Linked DNA regions of Homo sapiens. The protein of the gene in region 4 purifies or fractionates together with the protein of the main gene of each other region. This does not show direct contact. Each region holds a gene or a part of one and is shown on either strand. Other genes may lie near its edges.

Evidence for each region.
Region 1: the proteins of GPBAR1 (region 4) and LPGAT1 purify together in Homo sapiens (affinity purification with mass spectrometry; one large-scale study listed by BioGRID and IntAct). This does not show direct contact.
Region 2: the proteins of GPBAR1 (region 4) and TM9SF4 purify together in Homo sapiens (affinity purification with mass spectrometry; one large-scale study listed by BioGRID and IntAct). This does not show direct contact.
Region 3: the proteins of GPBAR1 (region 4) and ACVR1B purify together in Homo sapiens (affinity purification with mass spectrometry; one large-scale study listed by BioGRID and IntAct). This does not show direct contact.
Region 5: the proteins of GPBAR1 (region 4) and AGPAT5 purify together in Homo sapiens (affinity purification with mass spectrometry; one large-scale study listed by BioGRID and IntAct). This does not show direct contact.
Region 6: the proteins of GPBAR1 (region 4) and AGPAT2 purify together in Homo sapiens (affinity purification with mass spectrometry; one large-scale study listed by BioGRID and IntAct). This does not show direct contact.
Region 7: the proteins of GPBAR1 (region 4) and SLC25A40 purify together in Homo sapiens (affinity purification with mass spectrometry; one large-scale study listed by BioGRID and IntAct). This does not show direct contact.

Annotation. Positions count from the first base shown.
Region 1 is NC_000001.11:211,792,764-211,796,263, forward strand, and holds part of LPGAT1 (acyl-CoA:lysophosphatidylglycerol acyltransferase 1), read right to left. Parts: intron 428-3,500; coding exon 309-427; intron 1-308. UniProt on the Homo sapiens protein: Lysophospholipid acyltransferase involved in fatty acyl chain remodeling of glycerophospholipids in the endoplasmic reticulum membrane.
Region 2 is NC_000020.11:32,112,714-32,116,213, reverse strand, and holds part of TM9SF4 (transmembrane 9 superfamily member 4 isoform 1 precursor), read right to left. Parts: intron 1-3,500. UniProt on the Homo sapiens protein: Associates with proteins harboring glycine-rich transmembrane domains and ensures their efficient localization to the cell surface.
Region 3 is NC_000012.12:51,989,699-51,993,198, reverse strand, and holds part of ACVR1B (activin receptor type-1B isoform a precursor), read right to left. Parts: intron 1,337-3,500; coding exon 1,206-1,336; intron 1-1,205. UniProt on the Homo sapiens protein: Transmembrane serine/threonine kinase activin type-1 receptor forming an activin receptor complex with activin receptor type-2 (ACVR2A or ACVR2B).
Region 4 is NC_000002.12:218,259,606-218,263,814, reverse strand, and holds the start of GPBAR1 (G-protein coupled bile acid receptor 1), read right to left. Parts: upstream 2,801-4,209; 5' UTR 2,599-2,800; intron 1,757-2,598; exon of another isoform or gene 1,136-1,756; 5' UTR 1,091-1,135; coding exon 98-1,090; 3' UTR 1-97. UniProt on the Homo sapiens protein: Receptor for bile acid. Bile acid-binding induces its internalization, activation of extracellular signal-regulated kinase and intracellular cAMP production. May be involved in the suppression of macrophage functions by bile acids.
Region 5 is NC_000008.11:6,729,142-6,732,641, reverse strand, and holds part of AGPAT5 (1-acyl-sn-glycerol-3-phosphate acyltransferase epsilon), read right to left. Parts: intron 1,932-3,500; coding exon 1,816-1,931; intron 82-1,815; coding exon 1-81. UniProt on the Homo sapiens protein: Converts 1-acyl-sn-glycerol-3-phosphate (lysophosphatidic acid or LPA) into 1,2-diacyl-sn-glycerol-3-phosphate (phosphatidic acid or PA) by incorporating an acyl moiety at the sn-2 position of the glycerol backbone.
Region 6 is NC_000009.12:136,680,958-136,684,457, forward strand, and holds part of AGPAT2 (1-acyl-sn-glycerol-3-phosphate acyltransferase beta), read right to left. Parts: intron 1-3,500. UniProt on the Homo sapiens protein: Converts 1-acyl-sn-glycerol-3-phosphate (lysophosphatidic acid or LPA) into 1,2-diacyl-sn-glycerol-3-phosphate (phosphatidic acid or PA) by incorporating an acyl moiety at the sn-2 position of the glycerol backbone.
Region 7 is NC_000007.14:87,845,361-87,848,860, forward strand, and holds part of SLC25A40 (mitochondrial glutathione transporter SLC25A40), read right to left. Parts: intron 2,618-3,500; coding exon 2,493-2,617; intron 1,763-2,492; coding exon 1,589-1,762; intron 1-1,588. UniProt on the Homo sapiens protein: Probable mitochondrial transporter required for glutathione import into mitochondria. Glutathione, which plays key roles in oxidative metabolism, is produced exclusively in the cytosol and is imported in many organelles.

The DNA.
Region 1 (3,500 bases), on a different chromosome or scaffold from region 4:
TACAGTGGCGTGATCTCGGCTCACTGCAATTTCTGCCTCCCGGGTTCAAGCAATTCTCTTGCCTCAGCCTCCCGAGTAACTGGGACTACAGGTGCACACCACCACGCCCAGCTAATTTCTGTATTTTTAGTAGAGATGGGGTTTCACCCTGTTGTCCTGGATGGCCTCGATCTCTTGACCTCATGATCCACCCACCTCAGCCTCCCAAAGTGCTGGGATTACAGACATGAGCCACCATGCCCGGCCAAATGGATTCCTTTTTAACCTTCCTTTCTGGATGTCTATCTACTGCCTTCAGGGTAGCTTACCAGTCCTTTGTCCTGGAGGCACATCATCAGTGTGCACACATCTCCTGTTGCCTGATGATTCACCAACATCACTGCTTCATCTTTTGAAACTGCTTTAATATCTTCTCCCCATTCCATCACTGTAAGAACAAAAAAGTTTCAAAGCTGTCATTTTAAAGATTTTTATATTATCACAAACCTTATATTAGAAAAAATGATGTATATTAATGATGATATGTCACCTAGCTAAAACATCCGAAAGTTTAGAACTAAGTTTATTTCCTGTGCAAATCAGAATGTTAATATAACTTTTATAGAGCCCCCAAATATACATTAAAATATAAAATTATCATTATTTATTTATTTATTTATTTATTTATTTATTTATTTATTTATATTTGAGACAGAGTCTAGCTCTGTCACCCAGGCTGGAGTGTAGTGGTGCGATCTTGGCTCACTGCAACCTCTACCTCCCGGGTTCAAGCAATTCTCCTGCCTCAGCCTCCCAAGTAGCTGGGATTACAGGTGCACACCACCACGCCCAGCTGATTTTTGTATTTTTAGTAGAGATGGGGTTTCACCATATTGGCCAGGCTGGTCTCAAACTCTTGACCTCAAGTGATCCACCTGCCTTGGCCTCCCAAAGTGCTGAGATTACAGGCGTGAGCCACTGTGCCCAGCTATGGTCATACCTTTGATCTAGAAGTTCTATTTCCTAGAATTTATCCTACAGAAACTTGTTCAAATAAGCAAAGATATATGTATAAAGAATGTTTATCACAACTTAAATGTTCACCAACAAGGGAATGGACAAGAAAATTATGATGTAATAGGAGAGTATAAACCCGTTAAAATAATGGAGGATATCTCTTATTCACTAACCCAAAAAAGATGTATTATCAACTAACAAAGCAAATCACAAAACAGTAAATATAGCATGATCCCATCTTTTTAAAGCAGGAATACCATCCATGTGTTGTTCAATGCACTGAAAAACGTCTAGAAAAATAAATTTCAAACTGTTAATACCGATCATCAATGAGAGGTGGTTCCCAACCCTTCAGATTCTATTTTATAAGAAAACATTCAGACATAATAATGCATACTTTCACCTTAAAATAATAAAACTAATACAAATGCCAAATTATTTGAAGTTATCAGATGAAAAGTCACTGCGCCAAAATCTATACGTACATTCTAAGGGAAACAGTGGTATTTCTATGTAGTTATGCCTCATTTCATTTTATATTTATTTTTAACTTTTTTGAGACAGGATCTTGCTCTGTTACCTTGGCTGGAGTGCAATGGTGCAATCACAATGGCTCACTGCAGCTTCAAGCTCCCTGGGCTCAGTGACCCTCCTACCTCAGCCTCCCAAGTAGCTGGGACTATACAGGTGCATGTCACCAAGTCCAGCTAACTTTTGTATTTTTTTTGTAGACACAGGGTTTTGCCATGTTGCCCAGGCTGATCTCAAACTCCTGGGCTCAAGCAATCCACCGGCTTCAGCCTCTCAAAGTATTGACATTACAGACATGAGCCACTGCACTCGGCCACCTCATTTTACAGTAAATTTATGTCAAGCCTCAGTTTTCAAACATCAGAATTCTGCAAAGAATCTTCTAGCATTTTTTGATATGAATTATCAAAGGCCAATTCTACATTAGTATTCTTTACCCTAACCTTATCTCACTCACTGCTGCAAGGAAAGAATTCAAGCCACCTGTGTGTAAAAGCTCAGGATGAAATAGGGATAGGGAGACCTGTTTAGAAGCCAATTTTGCACTATATTTCAAAATTAATAAATGCACAAACCTTTTTACCTAGGAATTCTACTTCTAGAAATGCATCCTACAGATATACTCATTTATGTGCAAAATGACATGTACACAAGGCTACTCACTGCAGCTTTGATTGTAAAAGCAAAGATGAAAACAACTAGAAAGAGAAGCTAACTCAAATTCATAGAAATGGTGGTTGCCAGGGGCTGGGGGAGGGGGAAATTGTTGTTTAATGAGTACAGTGTTTCAGTTTTACAAGATGGAAAAGTTTTAGATATCGGTTCCACAACAATGTGAATATACTTAACAAGACTGAACTGTACACTTGAAAAATTAAGATGGTGAATTTTATGTTAGCGTATTTTACCACAATTAAAAACATTTTTAAGGGAGACTACCTAAATAAATTATATCTATGCAATGGAATATTATGCAAACATAGCACTTATGTACTAAGATGAAATGATATACTTTAAGTAATAAAAGCAAAGTGTAGAATAGGATGATGGATGCCACTAGTTGTGTTTTTTGTTTGTTTGGTTTTTTTGTTTTTGAGACGGAGTTTCGCTCTTGTTGCCCAGGCTGGAGTGCAATGGCGTGATCTCAGCTCACCGCAACCTCCGACTCCCAGGTTCAAGCGATTCTCCTGCCTCAGCCTCCCAAGTAGCTGGGATTACAGGCATGCGCCACCACGCCCGGCTAATCTTGTATTTTTAGTAGAGACGGGGTTTCTCCATGTTGGTCAGGCTGGTCTTCAACTCCCAACCTCAGGTGATCCGCCCACCTCGGCCTCCCAACGTGCTGAGACTACAGGCCTGAGCCACCGCGCCCAGCCTAGTTATGTTTTTAAAAAGGACAGAGAATATACTAACCAAATGAAAACTCCCCATATGCCCCTGTTGACAACCCTCCAATGGAGACACACGGACATACAAACACACAAACACACACACACATGCACAACATTCTTTCATTAATACAATCTTCATTCAATAAATCAGCATCAGGCATGGTTAGGTGTTGTGGATATAAAATAAGTAAGAACATTTCAAGTATTATTCTAAAGTGAACAGCAGTTAAAACTCAAGAAAAGTCTAGCTTGGTTCTATAAATAGTGGGCTATTAAGAGGTAATGTGGACAGTTTTCTGGCTCTCCATCTGTATTAATAGATGTCTCATCACCAAATAGTCCTTTAACGCAATCTGTGCTACATGAGTGGAAAATACTAGATACCTAGGCCCATGCAGTGGGAAGGCATATATGTCAATATAACTGCAAATAAGAATAAGTTTTTACATAAAATATATCTTACCTGTTTGCTTTATATAAATCAGATAAATCTAGTAAGTGTGACTGGTTTAAATATGAAAACATAAATTGAATTTGGAACCCTCTGTACTGGGTTGAACAGTATACTCCAAAAATTCATGT
Region 2 (3,500 bases), on a different chromosome or scaffold from region 4:
GAAAAAGTTCTGGAGACGGATAGTGCTAACAGCTGCATATGTGTAAACGTACTTAATGCCACTGAACTGCACACTTAAAAATGCTTAAAGTGGGCCAGGCATGGTGGCTCATGCCTGTAATACCAGCACTTTGGGAGGCTGAGGCAGGTGGATCACCCAAGGTCAGGAGTTCGAGACCAGCCTGGCCAACATGGCGAAACCCTATCCTTACTAAAAATACAAAAATTAGCCAGGCGTGGTGGCACATGCCTGTAGTCCCAGCTACTTGGGAAGATGAGGCAGGAGAATCGCTCGAACCCAGGAGACAGAGGTTGCAGTAATGCACTGAGCTGAGATCGCACCATTGCACTCCACCCTGGGCGACAGAGTGAGACTCTGTCTCAAAAAAAAAAAAAAAAAAAAAAAAGCTTAAAGTGGTAGGTTTTGTTATTACCACAATAAAAAATTTTAATATAAGGTAATTGAGGCTTAAAAGCGCAAACGGTTTTCCCAAAATCACATAACCAATCAGTCCAAAGTCACAAAAGTAATCACAGTGTCAGAGCTGGGAGTCTAGCCCAGATTCTCAGACCAAGCATAAGAGGATTTCAAACCCTGGGAGGTCTGTTGGTTTAAAGCATCAGGCATAGGTGAGAAACCATGTTAGGAAGGGAGAGAAGGAAGCAATGAAAAGGAATGAGATGGAACTGAGAAGTCCTGGGTGTCCCCATCCATGCCCCATTTGGGAAACTCTAGTGTCAGCAAATGGTTCAGGGATCAAAGCAGGCTTGAAGGTGGTAGTGGCTCCTATTATTCATCCGTGGCCAGATGGCTCTTCTCATCCTGGGTCCTTCCCACCTTTTTGCCAGTGCCCAGAGATCAAAACTCAGCCTTCTCCAACATTCTCTGACGTGCTTCTTTAATGCCAAGATCAAAGGGAGACGTTTGTCCAAGTTGTAAAACAGAAACTAAGAGGCAACTTAATGTGATCCCAACCTCCTCTGTACTTCCTGAGGGGGATTAAGGGCATTCCTTTAAAGGGACCCCTCAGAGAAACACATTTAACCAAGGCCCGATGTCAGCACCTCAGCTCCAAGGACACAGTAGCTCCTGCAGAACATGAGCCAGGTGGGGAAACCTGGGTGATCAGACAGACAATACAACCAACACAACAGCTTGGAAAGATCACAGTGACCATCATCATGGAAAAAACAAAATAAGTCTGATTTTATAGGCATATTAGCAAAACTCACCTTAAAGTATTCCAAACTACAAAATTTTCAACTCAGAATTTGGAAATCATCAAGTACAAACCTTAATTTCACACATGACATATGTGGAAAACAGACTAATGAAGCCAAAGTAATTTGCCCCAGGCCACACAATGCATCAGTGGCAGCGCTGGGACCAAGCCCAGGCTGCTGGCTCCTGCTCCAGCGTTCCTTCTTCAGTCAGCTCATGTCCTCCTGTACATGGGGTCCAGAGGAGACAGCAACTTCCTGCACACAAGACTGATGGCACAGTTCAGGCCTCTGGCCTTCTGTTCCAGGACTCTATCATCCAACCTGATTAGCACGCTATTTCACCATTAAAAACAGTTTTTGCTGGGCACAGTGACTCACACCTGTAATCCCAGCACTTTGGGAGGTCAAGACGGGAGGATTGCTTGAGGCCAGGAGTTCAAGGCTAGCCTGGGCAACATAGCAAGACCCTGTCTCTAAGAAAAATATAATTAAAAAATTAGGTGGATGTGGTGCGTGCCTGTAGTCCCAGCTACTCAGAAGGCTAAGGCAAGATGATCGCCTGAGCCCGGGAGGTGGAGGCTGCAGTGAACTATGATCGTGCCACTGCACTCCAGCCTGGATGACAGAGTGAGACCCTGTCTCAAATAATAATAACAAACAAACAAAACCAGTTTCTGTGCCTTTGACTGGGGCTGGAGGGACTACTGGCATTGGCTCCATTAGCACAAAGGAATCTTGATGTCATTTATTCCATTCCTGTTTCTGGAGTGGCTCAAACCCAAGTAACCTCAAAACAGTGTGAACTGATGCAGGAATACACTTCCATACACCCATGGAAACTGAATGTATGTTCACACAAGAACTTACACCTGAATGTTCACAGCAGCATTATACCTAACAACCAAAAAGTGAAAACAATCCCAATATCCATCAACTGATGAGTGATAAACAAGCTGTGGTACATCCATACAAGGGAAGATTCAGCCATAAAAAGGGATGCGGCACTACTGATACATGATACAACATAAACAAACTTTGAAAACATTATGCTAAGAAGCCAGACACAAAAGATCACATATTATATAATTATCTTTGTATAAAATGTCCAGAATAGGCAAATCTATAGGGACAGAAGGTAAATTAGTAGTTGCCTAGGGCTGTGGGGAGGGAAGAGTAGGGAGTGACTCTCTTTTTGGGGTGATGAAATGTTCCGAATTACACAATGGTGATAACCATCACATTTAGTGTATGCACAACCTATAAAAACACTAAAACCCACTAAATTATATACTTTAAAGGGGTGAATTTTATGGCATATGAATTATATCCATAAAGAAGATTATAATAAAAACCAAAACAGTATGAACAATGATGTGAGGGAAGTAGAGTTTTATTCTCCAAACTGAAGTTTCTAGACTCCTGACACATCTAGAAATGTACTCAATGGACATTTCCCAAGTTTCAATGAAATAATATTCCCAAGAACCGTTTTCCATAAAGAGTGAGACATGAGCCCGCATCTCAATTCAGACCTAGCTAGATCAACACTGTATCCTGTAACTTTACAGAGTAGTCTAAATCTAAGGATGGAAGAAGACAGGAAAATCAAAGAGAACTTCAGTTTACACCAGCTATCTTCTATGGAGGGAGAAGTCTTGCCCTGCGGGTTCAGGAAACACCCTCCATACTGACATTGTTCTGGGAGCTGGCGGCTCAACCCTTGGGGAAGAAGAGCCATTCACCAAGGAAAGAGAGAAAGGGAAAAGCTCACATGCCACCGCACTTGCACCCACAACCCTAACTTTCAAAACAAAGGACAAACCAGCAACCCAGCTATTCCCACGGCCACTGGATCCACTAGTTCAGTTCCTCTTTGGCTGTATGACTCACCTCAGAGACCCATACACTCCAAAGTAGGTCTACCGCACCCCCTCGCCCCAATGGTTATGAAATGAGGGTGTGTATGAGGGTGTGGGGACTATTCTGACTTCCGTGTAATGAAGTGCTGACACAGACCAAACTCAAGCCTGTGACTCCACTTTGCCCCTTCATCACATACCCCTGTAATAAATTTGCTTCCACACCTTTTCACTATTGCACCAGATATGAAGTTTCTCCATATGCACCCTTTAAACTGGCCTCTGTGGGTCACTGCATATGTTACATACTCAGTTTCTTTAAATCAGTTACTGTTTTCAGTACAACACTCCCAGGTGGCACAACAAACACTAAATCACCGTACTTGCAGGGTTTTGTTGGTGGTGGTGTGTTTTGTTT
Region 3 (3,500 bases), on a different chromosome or scaffold from region 4:
TAGAGTCAACAATACTGTACACCTGAAATGTGCTAACAGTAGGTCTCAACTGCTCTCACTACACACACAAGCAACAAGGTGAGGTGACAGATGTGTTCACTAACTTGTGTGGTAATCATGTCACAATACATACATGTATCAATTCAGCACTTTGTACACCTTTGTTACAATTTCATTTGTCAATCACACCTCGATAGAGTTGGGAAAAAAATAAGTAAAAGGAAATGCAGAACCGCAAGTGAAAAGGAGGCCCATGAGCACTTAGCTAGGCGAAGCCTGTTCCCCTGAACACTCTTAAGACCCTAGAATTCCATGTTTATTAGTACGTATGTCACAAACATGTCCTCATGTCAACTCTTTCCACCAAATGTTGTTTCCCCCACACCCCTGATTTCATCTGCCGTCTCTCCCAAATTCACATTCTCCATCCCAATCCCAGCCCTGTCATACACATCACCTCCTCCCTTCTGAGTTTCTGGAAAGACCACTTTCCTCACAGGCATGTCCTCCTCCTCTGTCTGGTCTCAGGGCTTCTCTTATGGACACCTCCTCCTCACTCTTCCATGGAGCTCAGCTCAGCTCGGGCTCCAGAGCTGCTTTCCTAGTTTGGTGTCTAACAGCTCTGGGTTCAGTTGTCACTTGTTGACCACCTCCCTCATCTGTGTCTTGGAGACAAAGCCTTGTCCTTTTTCTTTTATGAGACAGGGTCTTGCTCTGTTGCCCAGGCTGAAACGCAGTGGCCCAATCATGGCTCACTGCAGCCTTGACCTCCTAGGCTCAAGCAATCCTCCCACCTCAGCCTCCCAAGTACCTGGGACTACAGGTGGTGTGCCACCAAGCCTAATTTTTTATTTCTTGTAGAGATGGGGTCTCCCCACATTGCCCAGGTTTGTCTCGAACTTCTGAGCTCAAGCTATCTTCCTGCCTCAGCCTCTCAAAGCGCTACGATTACAGGCCTATGCCACCACACCAGGCCCAAAGCCTTTTCTTCTTCTAGGCTGTGAACTCCAAATGGCACCCTACAGGGTCCAGGACAAGAGACTGTAGCCCTAAAGGGCTTGGGATATGTAAAATAGCACGTAATAGTAAATAATAACTGACACTCTCAGGGGGCTCCTCTGGGGCCTGACCCCATTGTCAAGAAACCCTTTTCTAAGGTGGAGAAATCAGGCTGATGGGAAAGCCGCAGGAGGCCAGCTTCTTACCTCATAACTCTGCCACCAGTTGGGGATGTTGGGACGCAGCTTCTGATCACATACAACCTTTCGCATTTCCTCAATGGAAGGGTCAGAGGGCACTAAGTCGTAATATGGCAGCTGATATTCTTCATGGACTCCTGGGAGAAAAGAAAGTATCTACCTGAGTTATCAACAGCAGGAAAAGATTACTCAGAAGCCGGTGACAAAACCTACACTGTGCTCTGTAAATACCACTACCCCCTAAGGTTCCTTAGAAAGTTAGTTAATTCTAAGTATGGAACAAGAAATACACAAAAGGGGCCGGGCATGGTGGCTCATGCCTGTAATCCCAGCACTTTGGGAGGCCAAGGCAAGCGGATCACCTGAGATCAGTAGTTTGAAACCAGCCCCGCCAACACGGTAAAACCCCATCTCTACTAAAAATACAAAAATTAACCAGGCATGGTGGCAAACACCTGTAGTCCCAGCTACTAGGGAGGCTGAGGCAGGAGAATAGCTTGAACCCTGGAGGCAGAGGTTGCAGTGAGCAGAGATCATGCCACTGCACTCCAGCCTGGACAAGAGTGCAAGACTCTGTCTCAAACAAAACAACTAAACAAAAAGAAATACAAAAGAGTAGCCAGGAACATTTTTTTTCATAGCCAAAGCAAGGAATCTATCAAAGACTACTGGGGGTCACATCAAAAGGCACCAACTTGATAAGCTCCCAACTGAGCAAAGATGGGAACTTTTAAGTAACAATAAGACAAATAACTTCAATGGAAACAAATATTTTTAAAGTCTAAAAAAGGAAATTTCAGTCACCTACCTCTGTGGGAGGCTACAGAACCACCTCATTATTTTGAAAAATGGTAAATAAGTGGAAAGAATCAAGTATTTTTTCTGCCTCTCCTATTCCAACTATATATCATGGGAACCAAATACATATGTAGGGGAAGTAATCATTCGCTTAGTTTTGGACAATATCACCACGGCACGTTAACGACACAAAAATAGAGAACCAATGCTACGCAACTTGTCACAGAAGGACAGAGGAACCCCTGTGAAGGATACGTGTCCCCGAACCCCCAGAAATGATTCTAGCTGCCAGATCTAACTACCAATTCATAGGAAATACCAGGAAGAGTAGAATATGTGAACTCTACCTAAGCAATCTGCAAAATCTAGCCTGGGAAATTCTACAGGACAAATGACCTGGATTCTCCGAAAAAACAGAGTGGGAAGAAAAAATGAGGGGGAACATGTAGACAAGAAATGTAGGAGGTGTATTCATCAACTGCAGGGGATAAAACTTATTGGAACCCCGATTTGAACAAACTGCTTTAAAAATTTAGGAGACTGGGGAAATCTCAACACTGACTAGATGTTAAGTGACATTAATGTTTGCCAGGCACAATGGCTCACACCTCTAATTCTAGCACTTTGGGAGGCCGAGGTGGAAGGATTGCTTGAACACAGGAGTTCAAGACCAGCCTGGGCAACATGGCAAAACCCTTGTCTCCACAAAAAATACAAAAATTAGTAGGGCATGGTGGTGCACCTGTAGTCCCAAGCTACTCAGGAGGCTGGAGTGAAAGGTTCCCCTGAGCCTGGAGAGGTGGAGGCTACAGTGAGCTGTGATCACGCCACTGCACTCCAGCCTGGGTGACAGTGAGACTCTGTCTCAAAAAAAAAAAAAAAAAAAAAAGCACTAAATTTGTGTGTGTGTGTGTGAGTTTCACTCTTGCCACCCAGGCTGGAGTGCAATGGCGCAATCTCAGCTTAATGCAACTTCCACCTGCCGGGTACAAGCGATTCTTCTGCCTCAGCCTCCGAGTAGCTGGGATTACAGGTGCCTGCCACCATGCCCGGCTAATTTTTGTATTTTTAGTAGATTCGGGGTTTCACCATGTTGGCCAAGCTGGTCTTGAACTCCTGACCTCGGGTGATCTGCCCGCCTCAGCCTCCCAAAGTGCTGGGATTACAGGTGCGAGCCACCGCACCTGACCCCTAATGTTCATTTTTTTTTCCTTTTTTGAGACGGAGTCTCCACTGTTGCCCAGGCTGGAGTGCAGTGGCACGATCTCGGCTTGCTGCAACTTCCACTTCCTTGGTTCACGTGATTCTCCTTCCTCAGCCTCCCAAGTAGCTGGGACTACAGGCGTACGCTACCATACCTGGCAATTTTTTTGTATTTTTAGTACAGACGGGGTTTCACTATGTTGGCCAGACTGGTTGCAAACTCCTGACCTTGTGATCAGCCCACCTCGGCCTCCAAAAGTGCTGAGATTACAGGCATGAGCCACCGCGCCCGGCCTAATG
Region 4 (4,209 bases):
GCAGGGTCTCTGATCCAGAGAAGTGGGGCCCGGTAGAGACAGGCTGGATGGCTGAGCTGGACGGATGCTCTGGTAGGAGTCAGCAGAGGCCCTTCCTTTAGTTCAAGTCCAGGTCGACACTGCTTTGGCTGCTTGGGTGGTAGGCAATGCTGGGGCCGGGACTGTCCCGGGAGGCTCTTCCCCACAGCCCCTGCAGGCACCTTTGGGCGGCTGCCCTCCAGGGGGCTGTGTAGCGCTGATCGCCCAGCCCCATGGCTACGGGCACTGCCGCTGCACTGGCACTTCCTAGGGAGAGGAGGGACAACAGTGTCCCAGGCCCCAGTGGCGGGCGCTGCTCATAGGCCAGGACTGAGAGGAGCAGTGTGGCCACGTAGGGCCCCCAGCACAGCCCGAAGAGCAGCATGGCTCCAGCCTGTGCCCTTGCCTGCCTCCAGGTAAGGGCCCGGGCCAGGGCGGAGGGCTCATCGCGGCACACTGCCCGCTCCAGCCGGCAGATGTCCTGCAGCTGGCGGTGGGCAGTGGCCAGCACGCGGACAGAGAGGAAGGCAGCAGCACCCACGGCGGGCAGCAGGAGCCCATAGACTTCGAGGTACAGGTAGGGGGCTGGGAAGATAGCCTGGGAGCTGCAGTTGGCACCAGGGGTCCAGTGGTTCCACCCCAGAGCGGGCAGACTGGCAAAGAGCAGGGGACCAGCCCAGGTGAGGAGCAGGGCCAGCCGAATGCTCCCAGGGGGCTGGAGTGGCCTCAGGACTGCCATGTAGCGCTCCCCGTGCACCAGCAAGAGGTTGGCAAGCAGGGAGAGGAAGGAGAAGTTGGGAGCCAAGTAGACGAGGAGGCAGGACCAGTAACCCCGGCGACTCTGGTTCCACAGCCCTGGCAATGTGGGCAATGCCAGACCCGTGAGCAGCCCAGCCAGCAGTAGGCTCAGGAAGAAGCAGCCAGCAGGTGGGCTGCGCAGGCGGCGGTCCCAGGCGATGCCCAGGGCTAGGAGCAGGTTCGCGGTGATGATGAGGCTTGCCAGGGCCAGGGAGAGCCCCAAAGCCCCCTTGGGAATGGGGCTGGGCACCTCGCCAGTGCTGTTGGGCGTCATCTTGGTCCTGGGGACAGGGGAGTCCTGGAGCGGCAGCCGGCATGCCTGCAGGATGGGGTGGCCAGAGTTAGGATGGGGCTGCAGGTCGTGTCCTCCTGGCAGGGCAGCATGTTAATCCAGGGGCGCAGACCCGCAGGCTGTGGGCTGTATCATGTTCGCTGATACACAGAATTTTTCAATTAATTGCCAATTAAACATTTATATAAAAAACTATCTTTGGTTTCTATTGAAAATTCAGGTCTGGCAACACATATGTCCTGTGTGGTAGCAACCAGCCGGAGCTCACTGCTGGCTGCCCTTCGGACAGTCCCCACCCAGCCAGCTTTATCCATTTCTGGTATCTGCCTTTTCTGGGCAGCTGTGTTGAGGTCTCTTGTTTAGACTGAAAGGCGGGCCCATCCAGCCCCAAAGCATTTTGTGTATCCCTGCCTCCACCGGGGAGGCCTCTAAATGAGAGAATGGACCAGGGCTGGCTGGTGTGTAGTGGTCTTCCAGCCAGCCATTAGGTGACAGGCTCCAGCGGGCCAGGTCTCGGGCACCCTGCACCCTTCCCCCCATCTGTCCTTGTAGCCATCACAGCTCAGTGAGCAGCCTCCGGGTAGGACTTCCAGCCCATAAACTTGACTCGTCTTTGCTCCACACTAGCAACAGGGTCCTTCCTGGGAGCTGGAGGGAGGAGAGAAGCAGCTGGAGGGCACGTGTGGCAGTGAACGTGGAGATGCCAGCAGCAAGGAGAGGGACTCCCCCACACCCCCAGGCCTGAGGCTGAGCCCAGAGGAGAGGGAAGAGGAGTCTGGGCAGAGTCTGGCTTCTCTGTGGCTCTCATCTGTCCCTGTCCTTCCCGTCATTCCCTGGTCTCAGTCCTCCAGTGTCATGGCTCTGCTGCCACATCCTGGGGACAGGGGGAGGGGTCCTGGGTCCTGTGGGAACTCCTGCTTCTGTCAACAGGGGAGCAGCTGCTGTTGCTAGGATCCAAGTCAATAAGGAAAGGATTCATACCTCTCCCCTCCTCCAGGACAGGGGATCAGGGCCCCATGGCTGCCCTGAGCTGAGAGGAAGGAAGATGCTCCCCTTCCTTCCCAGGTTCCCCCAGCACCCTGAGCCTGGGCCTCCAAGGCCTTATGCCCCCTTTCCCCTCCCCTAAGCATGTTTTCTCTTTCTCAATCTCTTCCAGTGCCCTCCACCCAGGATGTCTTTTCCTCTCTAGAGGCCTTGCAGTTTCTGTTCCCTTTCCCAGGGCATCATCAACTCTCTTAAGTCCCGTGAGACTCAGGGTCCATTACCCCAAACCTGGCCTGAGCTGGAGCTCCCAGCCCTAATCGGAATGATTCCCCCCAACCCACCTCCACTAGAACAGCGACAAAGGCAGGGAGCAGCCCCCAGGGGTGATTTCCCAGCAGGGTGCAGGCTGTACCACCTGCACACCCCCGAGGGTCTGGTGGCTTGGGCTGGGTGTAGTAGCCTCTCCAGGATCTGGGGTTTGGGGGTTTGGGGGAGTAGCTACTCACATGGCTGTTGGGAGCAGGTATTGCCTGCCCAGCCTGGGCCTTCCTGAGTGTCAGGGAGTTGCTGCAGCCAGCCCTGCAGCGGTTTGGACCATGTCTGGTGTCCTGGCTGAAGAGCACAAGTGGACCAAGTGCATGGTGTCTCCACCCAGTGGGGACAGCGGGGCCAGGCTCTCCTACCCAGGCTCTGCCCGTCTGGGTTCTCAGAGGGATAGAGAAATGAGGCTGGCAGGACTCAGCCCTGGCCCCGCCTCTGGGAGGGTGGGACCTGACATATTCCAAACTGCAGCAACTGGGAGGCCTGCCTCCCCCTCCCACCCAGTTCCCCTCTCCCCCTGCCACCTAGGTGGCAGTTTCCCTACTCCAGCTCGGAGTAATCTGAGAAATGCATTCCAGTTAATGAATAATAATGATTGACTTACCCCTCCCGACTTCCCGCCTCAGCTGATGCATTTACATTTAAGCCCCTGGACTGGCCAGCCAGCTGACAGCACACCAGGCTCCCTCCACACTTCCGTGTGTGATGGTGGCAGTGGCAGGTGTTTGGGGCCTGAGGATCTTCACTCCCCCATCCCATCACCTGATGGGCCTTTCAGTTTCTAAGGCCAGACTTGCCTTCCTGAATCTGGGGTCATTCCACACTTTTCTCAACTGCTTTCTGAGTCAAGTTCTGAACTATGAGGGACAAATGGCTCTGGGGATGTGACCATGGGTAAGGTACTACTGGGCCTCGGTTTTTGCCTGTGTTAAAATGGGAACAAGAAAAACCACCTCTAATTAAGGTCGTGGTGGGGAATATCACAGGATAACACATATGGCGGCATATACCCCAGTGCATGGCCCTTGATGGGTGGGGGTTTGCCCCAACAAATGGCTCCCTCTCTTTCCTCCCCCATGATGAAGAGGCATGAGCTGGCGCTGGAATCAGAGCTGTCTGGATCCTTTTTTAAAAAAGCCAGTGAACTTGGGCAAATGACTAAAGTTCCCTTGCCTTAGTTTCCTCATCTGTCAAATGGGGCCCATAGTTGTACTCACCTATCGTGAGACTAAATGAAGTCCCGTGTGATGAGGACTCAGATCAACACTTGGCCCTTCAGCACTCCGCGACAGGCAGCGATCGCTGGGAACATTATTAGGATTTCTGCCTTTCTCTGCACCTGGCCCCTCTAAGACAGATCTGCTGAGAGGGGCGCATGGGGAGCTTGGGAAAAGCAAGAGGGGAGTGACACTCTTGCTGCACAGGGAAGCTGAGGAAACCAGATACATTGAGAGGGAAGGGCAAGTTCAAGGCTGGGAAGCCAGAAGTGGTGCTTTGATTTCCACCTTGTATCAAGTGCGGCTTTGGAGTGAGGGGGAGGAGAGAAGCCCAGCCACACTCCCTTAAGGCCTGAAATGGGAGGGAACAGGCGGAAATTGCAGCAGGAAAGCTGGGACTGGGGGTGAGACATTAGGAAACACTTGCTGGCTGAAGAGCGCAAGTAAATGGAGCAAAGGGACTCTGGTGCTCTCCGGGAGAGCTGGGCCTGAAGGGCTGGAAGCCCGTGGAGTGTGGCTGTGCCAGCTCTGCACAGCCAGTCAGGGATCCTGGAGATCAGGGACTTCTGTTGGGACAAA
Region 5 (3,500 bases), on a different chromosome or scaffold from region 4:
TGCGTCCACGTAGCTCTGCAACTTGTTTCGCATCTCTTTCTCGTTAAATTTGGCACTGCGCTTTACATAGATTCCTCCATGCTGCCACAATCAAATCGGGAGAAAGAGCATTTACTTTTAAAATAACAATTGGCCAGAGTCATCAAAAAGGCAACTTCTCTTGCAAAAAGTACAGAATGAAAACTACATTTCAGAATTTAATCTATATTTAATATCTTCAAACATTAGCTTCTAAAGAACATTTAGCTGAAAATTGCCTTGTCTCAACATAATTCAAAAAAACTGCATGTGACACTGTATTGGAAAACACATGAAGTTTAGTTTTGTTGGCAGTTAAAATGAAAATGCTTTCTTTCTTAAATACACATTTTTAAAAATAAAAAACCTGATCCATCAGATGGATTTAACTCCCAATTCTTCCACCCACTTATTACAGAGTCACTAAAAAGCGTCCTTAACATGTCTCACGATCTTTAGGGATTTTAAAAAATCAATCCTGCTAAAGATATTTATGTGGCACTGTTACGGACAGAAGTGTGTTCCCCCAAATCAGTCTACTAAAGCCCTAATAGTTCCCACTGTGACTGTATTCAGAGAGAGGGACTTAGAGGTGGTAATTAAGGTTAAAAAAGGGCCTCAGAGTGGGACCTTAGCAGTCTCTGTAGAAGGATTAGTCATCCAGTGTAACTAGTCCTTCTAAGAAGAGGAAGCAGTGCCAGCGGTGCTTGGGCACAGGGAAAAAAACCACCTGAGGACACAGGAAGAAGGATGCTGTCTGCAAGCCTGGGAGAGAGGCCTTGGGAGAAACTAACCCTGTCAACACCTTGATCTTGGATGTCTAGCCTCCAGAACTGGAGAAAGTAAGTTTTATATATACAGTTTGCTTTTTTTTTTTAATATCATACAGATCACTAATTACTGTTATCAACAGTTTAATGTAATTGCCTATCAAATTCTATGCCTTTAAATTTCCTATTTGTTTGAACTTTGTACATTTGCATTTTTGCTCTTTCATTTTACTGCAGCTGGCCCTTCACATCCATGAGTTCCACATCTGCAGATTCAACAAATCACAGATCAAAAATATGTGAACAAATAAAAATTAAAAATAATATAACAATTAAAATAATACAAATAAAAAATAAAGTATAACAACCATTTACATGGCATTTATAATGTATTAGATATTATAAGTAATCTAGAGATGATTTAAAGTAGTGCACAGGTTATATGCAAATACTATCCCATTCTATATGAGGGTCTTGAACACCTTAGATTTTGGTATCTGTGGTGGTTCTAAAACCAATCCCCACAGATGCTGAAGGAAAACCGCATATGGATAATCAGACGTATATAAATACACACCACTAAAAATGCCAAACAAAATTACTTCAACTGAGAATAAACTATTAAACCCATTTTAAAAACCATACATTCACATGAAGTATATTGTTAAATTTTAAAATATAACATTTTTATAGGGTTGGGTATGGCAGTTCACACCTATAATCCAGCATTTTGGTAGGCTGAGACAGGCAGATTGCTTGAGTCCAAGACCAGCCTGGGCAACACAGCGAGACCCCCATCTCTACAAAAAATAGAAAATTTAGCCGGGCATGATGGTGGGCACCTACGGTCCCAACTACTTGGGAGGCAGAGGCAGGAGGTTCACTTGAGCCCCAGAGGTCAAGGCTGCAGTGAGCTGTGTTCACACCACTGCACTCAGCCTGAGCAATAAAGTGAGACTGTCTCCAAAAAAAAAAAAAAAAATTTATAAACTACATATATAGAGAGAAAAGCATGGAAACAAGTTACCTGAGCAAAGTAACACCCATACAATGGCAGCCATTTTAACCCTTCTTTCAGCACGTAGCGCACATGTCCTAGCGCATTCTGCCTGATGGCCAAGATGTCAGCAACAATCCAGTCAACTGCAGAGACAGGACCCAGTTAGCGCGTACATGAGGCTCTTCACAGGTTGTACTATGAATGGGCTTCAAAAGTACTATGATGGCCGGGCGCGGTGGCTCACGCCTGTAATCCCAGCACTTTGGGAGGCCGAGGCGGGCGGATCACGAGGTCAGGAGATCGAGACCATCCTGGCTAACACGGTGAAACCCCGTCTCTACTAAAAATACAAAAAATTAGCCGGGCGAGGTGGCGGGCGCCTGTAGTCCCAGCTACTCGGGAGGCTGAGGCAGGAGAATGGCGTGAACCCCAGGGGGCGGAGCCTGCAGTGAACCGAGATTGCGCCACTGCACTCCAGCCTGGGCGACAGCGAGACTCCGTCTCCAAAAAAAAAAAAAAAAAAAAAAAAAAAAAAGTCCTATGATTAGGATGTTTAAAATTTCTTTAAATCTATCTGAGATATTTAAAAAATATACATTTTCTGTTTTTTGAGCTTTTTTTTTTTGCATTTCTTGAAAGGCTTTTTATTTCAAAGATAAAATACAGTCACAAAATACCTAAATAATCCAACAGCAGCATGTGTATGGAACAAAATGAGCTTCTCTAAATCCTAAAGTCTAGAAAACAAAGTTTTTTTAATGAGAAAGGGGAAATTATAAACAAAAAATGGCCAAATGCAACTATGAATTGCCACTAAATATTCAGTGTGTATATATATGTTCAGCAAAAGGCAAGGACACTTCATCTTCTACTAATGAGTTTTTAGGACTCGGTACTAGGTTAGGACAGCAATCAAACAAAGGTCTCACATGCCTTACAATGATGCTGGGTAGATATATGTGCTCCTTATGTAACCAAGTAAAATGATCTCAGACTGCTAATAACTATAGTTAAATAAATATGTTATTAACAAAGGGTTGCAAAAACAAGGGTAAGATGGTATGAATTGATAACAGTAGCAATAAAAAACTTCCTAGAAGTTGTTAGTTGAGCTTTCAAAAAGAAAAAATTTCCAACACAGAGAGTGGCCCTTGCCAATTAAACAAACAGGAAGTGGCAAAGTGGGTGCAGAAGATGGGAAACAGAGGACATGGTTTAAAGAGGAAATGAAGTGAAATTCAGGAGACAAATGATACAGGTCTTAAGAACCGCAGAAACTTGGATTTGAAAGTAAATGGCTACAAACTATCTCCTGATGAGAAAGAAAACATAAAAATGAAATGTAAGGGAGACTTCTCTAGTTAATACACACATGAGCTCAACGATACTCGAAAAGAAAACTGTTAATCTGTGAAAAGAATAATTCTATCATCACCCATGTTCTCAGGCCATGAAAATGAGAACAAAAGGAGTGAGTCAGAGGAAGGAAATGTTAAAAAAAAAAAAAAGTCTGTAGAAAATAAAAGCTGAGGATTTAGAGGAATTACAATAAAGTTTTAGCCAAAGAGGACAGTTTTCCACAGATTACAAGATGATTAGCTCTCAGCTATGGGAAATCTATTAGACAATGCACCATACTAGTCAGAATATCCCAAAAAAGATTTAGCCATTTTAATACTAAAAATTAACCAAGAAAAATCTCTTATCCATTA
Region 6 (3,500 bases), on a different chromosome or scaffold from region 4:
CCGAGCCCTCCTCTGTTTTGATTGTGGTATAACACGCACCACCTAAACAATATAATTGTACCCATTTCTCAGCACACGGTTCCGTGGCACTCGGCGCATTCACTGCCGTGTGGCCAGCACCACCCTCTAGCTCCAAAACTTTTCCTTTTTTTTTTTTTTTTAATCTAAGCTGCTTAGGGGTTGGATCGTGCACTGATACTTCTCTCAGCTGTGAAAGACACGGGGTACAAACCCCCGCCCAGCAGGCGGTGCTGAGCAGGCGCTGTGTCCCGCCGCCCACCACCGGCCCCTGGTCCTCAGGCCAGACAGATGGACGGACGGAGGCTGCCCCAGGCCAGCGGGAGGCTGTGGCTCTCTAGAACTCTGCAGCCCACAGTGTGGCTGGGGGAGAAAGGTATACCCTGGGGGTGGAAGAAAGTTGAAGTTGATGTCCTCAAGGGGACAAAGGGCCATCTGCACCAGCCACGTGAGGCCACCGCACTTCCCCCGCGGTGTCCCGTACATAGTTCAGAGCTTTCTGAAAGCTGGTGGGAAAGTCTAGACTCACTTTACAAGCGGTTCCTGGATGGGCGGGTGGCTCACGCCTGTAATCCCAGGACTTTGGGAGGCCAAGGCGGGCAGATCACCTGAGGTCAGGAGTTCAAGACCAGCCTGGCCACCATGGTGAAATCCCGTCTCTATTAACAATACAAAAATCAGCCAGACGTGGTGGCAGCTGCCTGTAATCCCAGCTACTCGGGAGGCTGAGGCGGGAGAATCACCCGAACCAGGGAGGAGGAGGTTGCGTTGAGCCGAGATGGTGCCATTGTACTCCAGCCTGGGTGACAGAGCAAGACTTCATCTCACACACACAAAAAAAGTGTTTCCTCAGAGAGGAAGGGACTGAACTAAGCCCTGCAGAGGCTCCTGCGGCCGAGGACACCCCCGGGAACCCAAGCAGAGAAAAATCGCCTTCTAAGCACAGAGGCCCCCTGCACCTCCTGTGTGCAAAGCCTCGAGACAAGGGCTCTACATGAGTCACCTCCTTTTGTTCTGACAGTAACCCCCCAGGGTAGGTACGATCATAACCCCCCTCTTCAGATGAGGAATGCGAGGTTCAAGGTTCAGCAAAGTTAAGTGACTTCCCCAAGGCCACACAGCAGGGAAGCCAGAACAGGCCTGAGCCCCCCTCGGAACCCTGCTTCGGAGCTGGCAGAGTCGTGCTGGGGCGGCGCGGGCCCCCAGTAGGACTCTAGGAGCTCATCCTGAGGCTCCCTCCCTCCCCCGGGCTCCGCAGTCCCCTCAACCCCTCAGCAGGGCTGGGAGCTTGCTCCGGCCTCCCCCAGCAGGAAGCTCAGAGCAGCCACTGTCCCCAGGCTTCCCCCACCAGCTTGCCCAGCCCAGTCCCTGTCCTGTGCCAAACACCCTGCCTCACTCAAACTCCCCTCCCACCAACCACAGGCGGACGAGGGGCTGCCCTGTCCTTTCCTCAAAGCCTGGGGCAGGTGTCGCTGTGCCAGACCAGGACACAGTCACACGGACCCCAAATCCAGGTCCTGGACTCCTTGCCTCCCCGGGGAGCAGGGGCAAAGCCAAGGTTGCCGGAAGCCTGGAGCTCAGGGAGCCCTGCTGGCCACTGCCAGGCGGGTGACTTGTGCCAGCTTTGCCCAGCAAGGCAGGAGGCCCAGGGAGCAGCCCAGCACCCAAAACTAAGTGAGGCTGAGCCCAGACTGGGCCCTTCTGGTGGCATCGGAGCAGTGGGCTCCTGCTGAGGGAAAGCCCAGGTGCTGCCTCAGTCTTTTTCAGGAGCCCTCAGACTGGAGTCCACTGGCCTCGAGCGAAGCCCCGTAAGAGACCCCTCTGGGGTCTGCAGGAACCCAGCCTCCTCAGACCGCCTGAGCTCAGCCCCCAGGCACCTGGGCTGCTCCCACACTCAGGCTCTGGGCCTGACGGGGATTTGGATCCCATTTCCCTTCTTCCCAGCTATGGCCTCGGGCAAAGCATTTGACCTCCCAGGCTCTTGTGGAAGGGTGTGCAGGCTTACATTCTATGAGGCGGAGACACCCGGGGCACCATCGGGCCAGGGCAGGACCTCCACCAACAGTGGCTGTGATGGGGATGACTAGGGGGTGGGGGGGAGGGGGGGAAGAATCCAAAATGGGTGGGGCCGGGCACGGTGGCTCATGCCTGTGACCCCAGCACTTTGGGAGGCTGAGGCAGACGGATCACTTGAGCTCAGGGGTTTAAGACCAACCTGGGCAACAGAGCGAGACCTTGTCTCAAAAAATAAAAAAAAAAGTCCAAAGTAAATCGAAGCAAAAGGCCCCTCAATGTGCCTAAGCCCCCAATCCCACCAGCACCTGGCTCAGGCAGCTGGGAGGCGGTTCTAGGTCAGGGCCCAGGCCACTGGCCAGGCTGTCCTCGTGGAAGGCCACTCGCTGACCCTTGCCTTGGTCCTGGGCTGGGACACTCCCAGGAGACCCAGCAGCTCTCTGAGCCAGGACTTGCCCATCTTCAGCTGCGTGAGCTCATTCAGGGCAGCCCCCTCCCCCTCTGCTGGGGCTCGCTGGGGCCACCGGGGACAGGGACCCCAGTGAGGAATCTGGTGTTTTCCGACAAGTGTCATCCAAGCTGCAGCACAAGGCGGGATGGGTCCATAGGGGTGCGGGGTCCAGCCCACACAAACACCCGGATGTGGGGGGTCCCCGTGACTCCTCAAAGCGGATGTGTAGGAGTGCAGGTGTGGCGGGCGGGAAGGAGGTGGGGCCAGAGAAGCCCTCCCATCCCTCAGTCAGGACAGCTCCAATTTCTGGGCCTGCACAGAGACACCTGGAGCGCTCTGGAGGACCAAGGTCACGGTCTCCCTTGGGACTAAGACCCCAGTGCTGTGGTGACACAGGGCCCCCGATGGCATCTGTCATCACCGGACATCTGTCAGAGGACCCGGGACCATGCACTGGCCGGCAAATCTGGGTCAAACCTTGCCCGACATCCCAAGTCCCCTGTGCGTTCTCCCCACACTGGGCGTGTGGTGTGGGCACGTGCTCCATGGGGACAGGAGCCTGCCCTGCAGCCAGGAGCTGCCACAACCACTAGGTCCCGGCCTCCAGATACCAGCAGAGCGTGGGGTTCAATTCGGGGAGCATCCTTAAGAGGAAGAGCACCCCTTTTCTGTCTGGGACCCTGAAAATGGTGGGAATAGAGGTCAAAGGAGCCGGAAACTAACTGCTGTTTCCCTAGGCTGCCCATCTGGTCTCCTTTGCTGTATGAAAAAGTAAACTTCTCTGTGGATTAAGCTGCTGTCTTGAGGGTTTTCTGATCCTGTAGCTGAACCCAGCTGTAGGACACGGAGCCGCTCTGGGCTTTGCTTTCCTCTGTCGAATGGATGTACCAGGGCATCGGCCCCTGGTGAGGAAACGTCCCCTGCAGCTCCACCGTAACTGCGCACACAGGGAAGGGCTCAGGGGACACCCCCTGCCTGGAAGGGGTCCGTGGTCTCAGCCCCAAGCCCGGTGGGAACG
Region 7 (3,500 bases), on a different chromosome or scaffold from region 4:
GGGTGAGTGAGCATTACCGCCTGAGCTCCACCTCCTGTCAGATCAGCAGTAGCAATATATTCTCATAGAACTCTATTGTTAACTGCGCATGTGAGGGATCTGGGTTGCGTGGTCCTTATGAAAATTTAATGCCTGGTGATCTGAGGTGGAATAGTTTCGTTCTGAAACCAATCACACACGCGCTCATGCACACACACACACAGGCACAATTTTTCCAATCATGGAAAAATTGTCTTCCACAAAACCAGTCCCTGGTGCCCAAAAGGTTGGAGATCACTGCAATAGGTGATGTTGGGACAACCAGCTATCCATGTGGGAGAAAAATGAAATTGAAAACCTATTTCAGTCCAAAACCCCAAATCAATTATGAATAAATGAATGCCAATGAAACAGTGCCCAATCTTATTAATAACCAGGGAAATGCAAATTAAAATGAGATACCACTTTAAATTATTAAACAAAAATTAAGACCTTTGACAATAAAAAAGTTGGAAAGGGTGTGAAGCAGCAGAAAATCTCTTACATTGCTGGTAGGTATGTAGATCATACAATCACTTTGGAAAAGAGTTCTATATTACCTAGTAAAATTTGAAATGTATGTATATCTATGAATCAACAAATCCAATACTGGATAAACTTTCAAAGGTACACCAAGAAACTGATTAAAAATTTTCATAGCAGCACTGTCTTACTTGTTTACTCACATATAAACAAGTAAAAATGAAGAAAACAGTTACATATAACACAAGAATGACTCTTAGGAAAATTTTTTAGTAAAAGGGGATTTTCAAAAATAGGTTAAACTAAACAATATAATGTTTGGCAATAATACATATGTGGGAAAATTAATTCTTTTAATCAAATGAATGGCATTCAATATAGTGGTTACCACTGGGGTTGTGACAGTGAAAGAACGTATTTGTGGTTTCATGATTTTTAAAAGATATTTATATTCTTATTGAGAGTTTCTCTCTAGATAAGTATTTCTTTTGGGTCTTAAAAACTTCTATGATCCACAAGGGAAATGCCACTAAAGTAGGCACATTCTGTAAGTTACTGGTAGATTTACACTTCTCACTTTTCATAATTTTCTCCCTTTTCATAACTGAGTAATCAGTACAATTCCCTACTTGATTTGTAATAGTCTTTTACAGGATAATCATTTAATGGGGAGATGTTTATTTTTAATAACTGAAAAAGTAGGAGCCCATATAATTCCAAAGTGGTCTTAAATGGATTCTATCCTTTGATTTGCAGTAGTTTTACTTATCTTACTAATTGCTTAGAATAATATTAAATGACTTATTTAGAATGTTAAAGGTAGTTTGCATTCTCTGAATATGAATACCCACTAATTAATGTAGAAAAGCAAATTAATCACAAGGAAAAAAAAACAAGCTTGAATAAAAACTATTCATTCAATAAAAGCTTGGAAAGATCTGAGAGCCCAACAATGAAAAAGGAGTTTGTGGTCACTATAGAAAATAACTTACCTTTAATGGTAAAGAGTTAAAAATCTAGTGACAGTAATATTTGAATGAGACAAAGCCATGTAAAATTTAGTAGCTACAAATAAGATAAATCCTACCTGAGAAAGGTACATCTCTAAGAACAGTAGGAGCCCAGCCCCTCCAAAGGGAAATCCAACCATCTTCAGATACTTTCTTGCTGACAAATCGATGCAGTTCCACGTAAGAAAACTTCTTGGACTGCATCTTGGTTCTAATCAATTCTAGTGGACTTATCACAGTTACTGCACCAACTAATACAAACAAGTTAAAAAAAAGAAAACAAAAATAAAGCCATGTACTATGCAAACACATATACTGTAAAAATTAATATTCACAGATTTTATATTTTAAACTTTTAGTCTATAATGTCTGAAAACCTTAAAATTAAATGTGTCATGATGTCAACATAATTGCCACAGATTTTTCCCTTGACAAAGTATTTCTTAAAAATCTATTTTCATATACTTTACTTTTTCTGGTTTCAACTCTCTCAAGGGCAGTTCCAGAAATGTTATAATCAACCAGAACTATGAAAACCAAAGCCCATTCCAGTTACTGCCCCAATAAATCCCACTCCCATTTAGCAGAGTAAACGTTCTTCTGTATAGAGTCAACGTTCCTTATGATAAAACTCTGAATCCCAAAGTTTATAAGGAAAGTGATTCAGGACTTTGGCCTGAATCACGCATGATCCCAGATGACACCTCAGAAGTTCAGGTAAATCAGAACCAACTCTGATGTCACTCTAAAAACTCTGTCCATGATTTGACCAAAATAGGCTGAGCCCATCTCATTCTGATGGTAATCACCATTCCATATGACTTCTGGAGTACCTATACTATATTAACAAATTAATATAAACTATAATGCAAAATATATCATACTAATACTCTATATATTATACAAATTATCTGTGAATGTCACAACTTAAACAGAAGCTCTAAACAGAAATCAAAATGAAAATAAAGATTTATTACTCACATCTGGCTACAATTCCAGCAACAATTGGTATGCAGGTTTCATTTTCTCCTAACTTAGATCTCAGAAGAGCACTTAATTGATCATAGCAGGTAAAATAAATAACTGTGGCAGGAACTGCCATCACTCTGTTAGATCACACAAAAAGATTTGTTCAAAATTATCAAAAGATCCCACATAGTCTTAACTTAAATTCAAATATTATTATATAAGCTAAAAAAGTCTTATATTTTGTGTAAGCTAAAAACTACAATAAATCAGCCTATGAGATCAATTTTTCTTTTAGTTTAAAAATGATTAGTACTTAACTTAGTAGGCAGTAAAAAGATATAAAGTAGGCATTTGCCATCCAAAAGTTTTCATTCCAGTTGTAAAGACAGTTACAATAAATAGCATTAAGTAAGCGCTAGCATGGTGGCACATGCCTGTAATCCCAGCTACTCAGGTAGCTGAGGAACAAGAATCACTTGAACCTGGCAGGCAGAGGTTGCAATGAGCCGAGATCGTGCCACTGCACTCCAGCCTATTTAGGGACAGAGCAAGACTGTCTCTAAATAAATAAATAAATAAAATAAAAATAAAACAAATAGGAAAAGACAAATTAAGACAGACACTTCATCTCCATCTCTGTTTCTGGTCTCCCAGATCTTCTTTCTCATTCATAATTACCATAACATCAGAATCAGCGAAATAAAAAGTACGTGAGAAATTGTAAAACATTTTTGTACTGTGGACCATATATCACTCCTGCTTATAACTAGACATAAATTATAATTAACATCATCAGAATTACATACACTAATTTTAAGGGAATTCTAATGACATACTATTTTAAAAGAAATTATTAAAAGGGAATTATTAAATTCAAACACAAAGTTGCAGGTACTGCCATGTCAATAAATATTAGTGCAACAAGAAACTAGTCCATGTTTATGATGTAACTAAAGGACATTCACAGACTATAAATTGGAATGCCTAATGTTATATGGTGGACTTTGCTGCTGAGAATTT